Linked DNA regions of Homo sapiens. The protein of the gene in region 1 purifies or fractionates together with the protein of each later gene. This does not show direct contact. Each region holds a gene or a part of one and is shown in the gene's direction. Other genes may lie near its edges.

Region 1 (6,201 bases):
CCCAGACAGTTGGAAAGAATTAAAAATTAGATGTTGGATGCAAAAATCCTTCATAATGCACACAGTAGGGCTCCATAAATGCTCCTTCTCTTCACACTCACAGCCACTCTTGGCCCCATATGGGTCAGCAGGCAGGGGGCAGAGGAGACACCTTCCTCCTGGGTCTGGAGAGCCCCTGGTTTGCCCTTTGTGGCCAGGCTCAAAGGGGAGAGAAGTTTGACAGGACCTGGGCAGGGGAAGGGGTGGACTGGAGCCTGGCCAGGCCTTTACCCAAGTCCATGCTTTGACTTAAACCCCTCCAACCTTTTTTCAAGCTCCAGAGGTGGGAGAGAGCAGAACCTTATTCTCATCTCTCCCCAAAGGCCTCCCACCGTGTCAACTGATAGTGAGCCAAACAGATGTATGGTTAATGTCTAAACTGGGACACTTGCGAGGGTGAAAAGGACACAATTTGTAATGTATATACTGATCCGCTAGTGTCTATCAGTCAGTCCCAGCAAACCAACGTGTGCCATTGCTCCAGCTCATCATTTCCCATCCTAGCCACAGGCTCACTGGACCCTCAGAACATTCTGAGGCAACAATGCATGGGCGGCTCGTGGCCCATTTTACAGATATGAAATTAGAACTTTCCAGAAGCCATACTGCTGCTGGACAGGAAACCAGTTACTAATCATCTAAGTCACAGATCACAGTGACACTGTGGCACTTGCCTGTCCCTTCTGCTCACCCAAACCTCCCCATTTTGCTTTCATCTTAAGGAAAGGAGGAGAGTTGAAGACTCTACTAGCCTAAAGGTCCATGAAGCCTGACTCTGTCCCTGGTGTCACTCATTAGCCCCGTGACTTTGAGTAAGTAACTTAACTTCCCTGTCCCTCAGCTTCCTCATCTGTAGAATAGGAGTAACGACACCTGTCTCTCCAGGTTGAGAAAATAGGACACCTAGTTCAGGACCTGGCACATTTTAGGTGCTCAATAAATACTGATAGATTGAATAATTGGACTAATGGTGGCGTGGGCAACCCACAGTCAGTGAATAAATGTTAACTGAGCACCTACTATGTGTCAGGCTCTTTGTGCTAGATGTTTTCTATGCTCCATCTTCCTGAATTGCTCACACTCCTGTAAGAGAGGAGAGATTCTTATCCCCTAAGGTCGCACAGCAAAGACGACGCAGGGGGGTGGGCTGTTAGTGTTCCTTGCCCAACTGTGGAAAGGGAGTCCCAGAGAGGGCAGGTCGCTTGCCCAAGGTCACGCAGAAAGCCGAGGGTTTCCGTCGCGAACCCCCCTCCCCACTCGCTCAGGGCTCTCCAATCCGCAGCTCTGCGTGCGGGGGCGCGCGCATCCCCCCGCCGTCCGTCCGTCAGCTGTCTGTCTGGGTGTCTATGCGGGCGCAGCAGTGCACCCTTCCCCAGCCTCGGGCGCTGCGCAGGGACAGACAAGGCATTCGCAGCGCCCTGCCCGCGCTCCACGCCCGCAGCCGCCAGACGGCAGCGCCTGCGTCCGTGCCCGCCCCAGCCGGTGCGCGGGAGCCGCGGGGGCAAAGGCGCAGTGGCCAGCGGACCATCTCTCGTGCCCTCGCTCTCTGCGCTCCGGGGCAGCTGAGCCCCGGCCACCCGCTCTCCAAGATGAAGAAGCTCCAGGGAGCTCACCTCCGCAAGGTAGGGCACGAGGGCGGGGGCGCTGGGGGTGCACCTGGAGGAGGGTTGGAGAGACCCGCCCCCAACGAGGCCCCTGGGGAAGGTCTGAGGATGCACCCAGACCAGCTTCGGGCTCTGGGGAAGGCCCGACTCAGCTGGATAACAGGGAGGGTCAGGGTCACGGTCTGCGCCCCCACCTCTGCCCCTGCCATCTGGGGTTCGGGATGTAGTATGAGGGGAGTCCTGGTTCACTGGGCCAGGCCTATGAACAGGTGTCTGCAGTCCCCGGAGGCGCGGGGTAGGGGCGGCCGGGGCCAGGCACCCACCTCTTCCCCAATTCCACCCTGCTGCTCCCCGCCAGGAGCTGATTGCCGGGTGTGGGGGGTATTGGAATACCTGAGCGTTGAGCTGGACTCATCTGAGGGGTGGGGAGTGGGAGGCGGTCATCCATACTGAAGCCGGCTCCCTGAGCCTGCGGGAAGACTCTCCTCTTTCCTGCCTGCTCCCTCCCCGCCCCCTTAGCTTGCCTGCTGAGACCCCAGGCTGCCCCTCAGCAGGGCTGAAGGGAGGCAAAGACAGGGAGGGGGCTATCGGAGGCAGGAGGATATGATCAATGAAGATGGAAGCTGGTATGGGAGAGTGGCTGTGGGCCCAGACCTCAGGCTCTCCCTACCTTGCCTTGTGGGATTGGACCTCTCAGCCAAGCTGTCAGGATATGGGGAGGGGGAATACTGGGGGACGTTTTCTGGCTTGTACCAGTCCTAACTAAGGAGTCAGATCTCCTGAATACTATTTCTGCCGCTGCCACTTGCCTGGTGACTTTGGACAAGTTCATTCTCTAACCTGAACCTCCTCTGGCTAAGCCCTAGCCTGGAGGCACCAAAACAGGCCCCACTGGGTGTGTGAGGTGTGGGGAAGAATGCTAAAGGGCTGGTAGATGTGAGAAGACTGTTCTCAGGGGCTGGTGTTATCAACCTCCCTACATACACACACATTCACACTCACACTCACTCACACACACACTCATTCATTCAAGTTCTCTGCTCTGGGGCAGCTGGGCTTGGAACCACTGTGGTGTGTCTTTTTTCTTTTTCTTGTTTTTTTTTTTTGAGACGGAGTCTCGCTCTGTCACCCAGGTTGGAGTGCAGTGGTGTGATCTCGGCTCACTGCAAGCTCTGCCTCCCGGGTTCACGCCATTCTCCTGCCTCAGCCTCCCGAGTAGCTGGGACTATAGGCGCCCGCCACCACGCCTGGCTAATGTTTTGTATTTTTAGTAGAGACGGGGTTTCACCGTGTTAGCCAGGATGGTCTTGATCTTCTGACCTCGTGATCCGCCCGCCTCGGCCTCCCAAAGTGCTGGGATTACAGGTGTGAGTCACTGCGCCCAGCTGGTATGTCTTTTTTATTCACTGACATGAGTGACTTCTTGAGACCATTTGTGAGTCTCTTGGGTCCTGTTTCCATTCTTTTCCACTCTCCTTCTCTTCCCTCTCTGCCCTCCCTCCCCACAAGAGGCCCTGTCCCTCTTGCTGGGTGCTGGGCTGGGGGGTTAGCAAGCTTTATCTCATTTAATCCTTTAACACTTCCAGGGGCTAGGTCTTAGTAGCCCCACTTTATAAATAAGGCAACTGAGGCACAGAGGGGTGAGACTCACTGCTTACCTGCTGGCAGGCTAGGCAACCTAGAGCCAACAGGGCAGAGGGTTGGTTCTAGGTTGCTACCTCCTCTCAGGGTCCTTTCCCTTTTCTCAAGCAGAATTGGGCGGGAATGAGAAAATGCCAGATTTCCGCAAAGGAGCAGCATTGCTCAGAGATGAACACTGGACTTAGAGTCAGGGGATCTAGGTCCAAGTCTTGCTGTGCCTTTAACTTGCTGTTTGACCTTGGGCTCATCCCTTCTTCCTGAAACTTGGTTTCCTAATCTGCACAATGATGAAGCTGGACCCCAGATTCCTATTGTCTCTCTCTGTCCTGAAGAGTCTTGGCTTGGGCAGTCTTGAGTCTCCCAGCCCCTGCTGTGAGTCCCTAAAGGCGAGCATGCAGGTCTGACAAACTCAGCTGTGTGTTCCTGCATGCCCCTGGGGTAGGGAGTGGGAGATTCAGGAGTGGGAGGCTTACACCCAGGAAGAAGTATGAAGCAACTCATTCAGCTTCCAGCCCTGCCCCAGCTATTTGATTGCTTTCTTCCATCTCCCAACCAGCCCCATCCTCACTGTGCCAGCCTCCTGGGATTCACCCCATGGTGGGGTTGGGAACTCCAGTTGGGCTCCTGATTGGCTCAGCTTTGGAGGACCCTATCTCCTGCCCCTGGAGCAGAAGCAGGCTTCCCTCTGATTGGGGGAGGAGGGGGACGAGCTGGCAGCATCCTGCTCTTGGAACTCTAGTCACCATGGAAACAGAGAACCGGGACCGCTCCATGAGCATGGAAAGGGCAGCTTCTCTGGAGGGATCAGAGGATCCTCATTACTGGGACCTCCTGCTAACTGGCCTGAATGGTGCTGGGATGGGCGGGGGGTGTCTCAGGGTAACAGGCCTGCTCACCACCCAACACCAGGAACAGTGGCAACCATTCCTCCCGGAGCTCACCTGGGGTGAGAGGTTGCTGAAGGCTGATGCTCACCCAGCTGGAGAGGCAGCCTCAGGGAACGGGGCATTGGAGGGGAAGGGTGGGTTTCACTTAAGTCTGGGATCTGCTGCTCCTGTCACCTCAGCATGTCCATGATCACAGCTAAAGAACTTCCAGGCATGTATTTGTTTCACCCCTTGCAGCCTAGTTACTTTAAAAACAGCTCTTCATGCTCTGTCATTGTCATCGTCACCCATAATAATGTCTGGCTGTTCCTGTCACCACGGCCCCTGTGGCCAATAGCCAGTTTCTGGCAAAATCACCACTGTGGTCACCATCACTGAGGGTCTCCTAAGGGAGAATGCCCCATGGACCTCTCACCCACTTTGAAGCATGAAAGGAGACCTTAGGAACAGCTGGCCTCCGCTCCCCTCTGGGCATGCATCTCCTCTCCAGGGACAGCAAGATTATGACTTTCTGACACAGATCACGGCTTAAGTACCTTCTTCCTGCTCATGAGCCAAAATTCACAAAATTCACCCAGCCCTCAGGCTCTCCCTACCTTGCCTGGTGGGGTTTGACCCCCCCAGCCAAGCTGTCAGCATGCGGGGAGGGGGAGTATTGGGGAAGTTTTCTGGCTTGTGACTGAAAAGTACCAGTCCTAACCAAGGAGTCAGATCTCCTTGGTTCTTAGTAGGCCCCATTTGAGCCACGGAGCATCAGTGGATTCCCTCCCTCAGGGGAACCCCCAGGTCCCTCCAAGTCCTCTCCTTTCTATGCTGAGGGCTCCCAGCTTCTTTCTGTTGTCCTCCTATCACCTCTTTTCCTGAACACCCTCCAGCCTGGCCACCTGCCCTTTGGACATGCTCCATATTGTCTGCATCTTTCTTAAAATATGGTGCCCGGAACGGAGGAACAAAACTCCAGCACTGGTGGGTGAAGGAGACCTGGCTTTCGCATCAGGAAGCCTTGGGCTCCAGACCTAGTTCTTCCACTCACCAACCTGGTAGAAACCTCGGGTATGTCATGACACCTCTTTGAGCCTCAGTTTTCCTCATGACGAAAATGGAGCTTAGATGAATACTGAGCTCAAAAAGTTGTTCTGAGAATGAAATCAGGTAATGTGAGTGAGATGTCTAGTGCAGTGGGCACATAGTAAGTGCTCAATATACAGTAACTTACTAAGATCATCATCATGCTCTTCATCTTCGTCATCCTCATCCTCATCAAAATAGGACCATCCAGCCGGCCACGGTGGCTCATGCCTGTAATCCCAGCACTTTGGGAGGCCGAGGCGGGTGGATCACGAGGTCAGGAGACCAAGACCATCCTGGCTAACACGGTGAAACCCTGTCTCTACTAAAAATACAAAACATTAGCCGGGCGTGGTGGTGGGCGCCTGTAGTCCCAGCTACTCGGGAGGCTGAGACGGGAGAATTGCTTGAACCCGGGAGGTGGAGGTTGCGGTGTGCTGAGGTTGTACCACTGCACTCCAGGCTGGGCAACAGAGGGAGACTCTTTCTCAATTAAAAAAAAAAAAAAAAAGGACTATCCCTTGATTTGGCATCTGTGTTAGCCAGACTAAGGTCAGGGTAGCTTTGTTAGTGCCTAAGCTACCCTGCTGGCCCAGTAAGTTTTGGTCGCCTAAAATCCTGAGGCTCTCCTGCATATGACAAGGTTAGTCCAGTTGAGAGCACTTGATTATCTGGACTGAGAATGTCTTTTCATTTAGCCCTGTTCAATTCCAGAGTCTTGTCTTGAGGTCACATTTCTGGCCTGGCCTCAGTCTTCTCCCCAACCTCTTTGGTCTCTCTCATTGGCAGCCTGTCACCCCAGACCTGCTGATGACCCCCAGTGACCAGGGCGATGTCGACCTGGATGTGGACTTTGCTGCACACCGGGGGAACTGGACAGGCAAGCTGGACTTCCTGCTGTCCTGCATTGGCTACTGTGTAGGCCTGGGGAATGTCTGGCGCTTCCCCTATCGAGCGTACAC
Region 2 (3,796 bases), on another chromosome or scaffold:
TCTACTAAAAATACAAAAAATTAGCCAGGCCTGGTGGTGGGCGCCTGTAGTCCCAGCTACTTGGGAGGCTGAGGCAGGAGAATGGCATGAACCCAGGAGGCGGAGCTTGCAGTGAGCCTGGATCATGCCACTGCACTCCAGCCTGGCAGACAGAGTGAGACTCCATCTCAAAAAAAAAAAAAAAAAGGTGTGCCTATTCTGAGCCAGACTTCCTAAATTCCAATCTCACTCTGCCTCTTATTGACTAGGTGGCCTTGGACAAGTTACAATAACATCTTTGTGCCTTAGTTTTCTCATCTGAAAACTGAGCATAACCTACCATATAGAATTGTTATGAGGATTAAATTAACTCATATATAGAAAGCCCTTAAACTAGTGCCTCACATATAGTAAGCCTCAAATATATTTCATTAGGATTATTTAGGCTTGTTAACATAAGAGCTTTTCTTTATAAACTATATAAAATTAAATAACCCCCAGAATTGCGTTTAAAAGTTACCACTGTTATTCATTGTTCTGGAAGAGTTGGCCAATTTAGTTAAGAATACAAAATCAGGGCCAGGCACGGTGGCTCACGCCTGTAATCCCAACACTTTGGGAGGCTGAGGTGGGCATATCATTTGAGGTCAGGAGTTTTAGACCAGCCTGACCAACATGGTGAAACCCCGTCTCTACTAAAAAACAAAAAAATTAGCCAGGCGTGGTGGTGCACGCCTGTAGTCCCAGCTACTCAGGAGGCTGAGGCAGGAGAATCGCTTGAACCTGGGAGGTGGAGGTTGCAGTGAGCCAAGATTGCACCACTGCACTCCAGCCTGGGCAACAGAGCAAGACTCTGTCTCAAAAAAAGAATACAAAGTCAAACGTGAAATACTGAAAGTTAGTTCTTTGCAGGTGAAATAATTGCAAAGAACACTTAAGAAATTCATAAAGCTATGGAATCTGAGAAAGAAAAATTTAATTTGTGCTGTTTGAAATAGTTTAGAAAGTGAGCTGGTTACAAAGTAAATATTTTTTTCTTTATAATTTGTATGATTTAAAAAATTTTTTTAAGTTCCATTAAAGAAAAAAAGGGTACATATAAATATTGAGATGCAAAAATATTCAGCATATGTTGCTAATTTGGAAGGAGGGAGACTGCAAAGCAGTATGTATAAGTATGTTTTATTAGGAAAATGTTTGGAAGGATATTCAGTGAAATATTGACATGGTTTTCTCTAAAATTTGTCATTTCAGGTGATTAATATAGTTTTATGTTACGTATATTTATTTTCAAATTTTCTGCAGTGGGTTTATGTATTTGTGAAATATAAGGCTGAAAGCTAGACTATTACACAAATATAAAGCTTTCTTTGATATAAATTTTCCTTTAATGTTCTATGGAACTTATATATTCATATTAATTTTATTTTTGCTGATGAGAAGCAAGATAAAATATATATATTGTGAGTTTTTATTGTGTGATTAACACAGCATGTATATTTCCATGGTAGTAACCCAAGACCTATATTGTACTTAAACCTGTATGTTGGAGTGTCTTTCTGAAATGTGTCTGTCGTAGTAAGTAGTACAGCTCAGCACATAGTGATTCATTAAATGTTTCACAGCTTCAAACTTGACTGTGGATAAACATCACTGAAAGATAGTCCCCTACTTTGCAGGAAATAGGTGCATTTTCTGTATCAAATCCTCTCTTCAAACTATCAGAAGGGGTTCTGTAAATCTTTATTGATTCTGCAACACCCACCAAAGAGACTTTGGCCTCATGTAGACATTTAGATTCACAAGGCGGGCCATACTTGGTCCCAGTCTACTCAGAAGGATAAGGGACAGGAGAAACAACAGGGTAGTGTTAGGTGTTTCCTCTTCAAAAGAAGTCTTTGCAGCCATCCAGGGGCTTCTCTGGTCCTCTGAGTGATCGCTCAGTGACAAGGAGATAAGATTCTCAAAGGTGGATGTGAGATTCATCTTGGCTCGAATCCCCATGCCCCGTAGTGACAGTATCCCTTGTAACCATCGCAGGGGCACAGTGTCCAGGATTCTGGCTGGGAACATGGCCACAAGAGCCACCACAATCAGGAAAGGGCAAAGAGAGCTATTGCTTTTCACCTGATAACTGTAATTTGTTCGTCTTCCCAGTCCAGTGCAGTCTACCAGTCAATGGTCATTTTTACCATAAGGATTGTTACCTAGTAACAACACAACTGATACTCCTTTATCAACTTTCTAGAGGAACCAAGATAGAAAGTTAAACCCAGGTCTGATTTTTCCTATCAAAGGAAAAAAGGATTTTAAAAAAACCCTTAACTCATAACTGGATTTAATCTAAAGAAGGTCAGTAATGGTTTATATTTGCATTTCAACATTTTGGGGATATTACTTACAATACCATAAATTCTTAACTAAATTAGCAATACCATAAGTAGCATTCTAATTTGAAAGAAAATCATAATTTGTTTTATTCTCTATTTTCAGACAAAATTTGACAAACAGGGAAACGTTACTTCTTTTGGTGAGTGATTAGCATTCTAAATCATTTTTTAAACATTTAATGAGTGAATCTGATAGAAATCAAGAAATTGTAGTATTTTGAGTAAAATATTCTTTGCATATACAGGTGTGTTGAAAGAGATCTTTCTTCAGCATTTGTCCATCAGTCTTAATTGGAGCTGGCAATACTCAGACTGTGTGTATTCTCCCAGAATTGTTTTCTTCTAGCAGGAGCCACTTTTTGCTCTAACAGGCTATTGAAGGAATATTTGGGAGAGCAGAGGCTGGTGTAGAACTGGAGCCCAGAGACACACTCTTTTTCTCTTTTGTCTCTCTTGTTGGCGTCCCTTTCACTGCCCTCATTCATTCTCCTGAAGCATGTTTAAGGCAGAGTCACATAATACCACTGACATTGCAGTGGGTGACAAAAGATGAACAGGGCCATGTCACTGCATGGCAGCCACATGGAACTCTGCTGCTGATGGCTCTCTGTGGACAGCTACTTTAAAAAGTGAGACTAGGCATTACTTTACAGTGTGACTTCAGATGTGAGTTTCACATCTCCCTTGAGAATGAATCAGTCTCAGGTAATAAATTCAGCTTTTCTCATTTTTGTATTAGTCTAAGAACAAAGAAAATCAAGCTTATCTGTTCACATATATAAAATACTGAAGATGATGTTGTAGTAAAAATAGAAAATATAGTTGTGTACAGTTTATATTTAAGAGAGATAACCTGTCTCTAGAGCTGGACATTTATAGGTTCTAATGATGCATAGTTGTGGTTTCTGTATTAGTCTCAAGGGTCTTCTAAGTAGTGAGAAAGTTATGAGGTATAGATAAGAAAATCATTAGTTTGACTCTATTTAGCCCGAGTATGTTTTCTAGGTAAAAATGGATATTAAAAGACTTAATTTTAGTTTTTGTTTCTGGTAGTAACCAAAAATTGTCTTGATGGTGGTGGGAGGACTGCTCTGATGGAAAAATCTAAGCCATTTAATGTATTTGGTTTAGCCCTCTCTGTTTATTTCTTTTATAGAAAGGAAGAAAACTGAATTATACCAAGAGTTAGGTCTTCAAGCCAGAGATTTGAGATTTCAGCATGTAATGAGTATCACAGTCAGAAACAATAGGATTATCATGAGAATGGAGGTAAAATATTTTATTTTCATCTATGTTTCTCCAATACAATCTTATAAAAGTTACCTTCTAACTATCTTGATTAGTATCTAGGTTAAAAGTAATTTTGGAATAGAAATAGCTACCTGAAACATAGGATGTTTTATAGCTTAATATGCTATTATGAGTAG

Evidence for each region.
Region 2: the proteins of SLC6A7 (region 1) and MRS2 purify together in Homo sapiens (affinity purification with mass spectrometry; one large-scale study listed by BioGRID and IntAct). This does not show direct contact.

The regions. Positions count from the first base shown.
Region 1 is NC_000005.10:150,188,700-150,194,900, forward strand, and holds the start of SLC6A7 (sodium-dependent proline transporter), read left to right. Parts: upstream 1-1,362; 5' UTR 1,363-1,385; coding exon of another isoform or gene 1,386-1,628; coding exon 1,629-1,661; intron 1,662-6,028; coding exon 6,029-6,201. UniProt on the Homo sapiens protein: Brain specific sodium (and chloride)-dependent proline transporter. Terminates the action of proline by its high affinity sodium-dependent reuptake into presynaptic terminals.
Region 2 is NC_000006.12:24,405,936-24,409,731, forward strand, and holds part of MRS2 (magnesium transporter MRS2 homolog, mitochondrial isoform b precursor), read left to right. Parts: intron 1-2,472; coding exon 2,473-2,509; intron 2,510-3,525; coding exon 3,526-3,638; intron 3,639-3,796. UniProt on the Homo sapiens protein: Magnesium transporter that mediates the influx of magnesium into the mitochondrial matrix and regulates magnesium metabolism. Also permeable to calcium, sodium and potassium ions.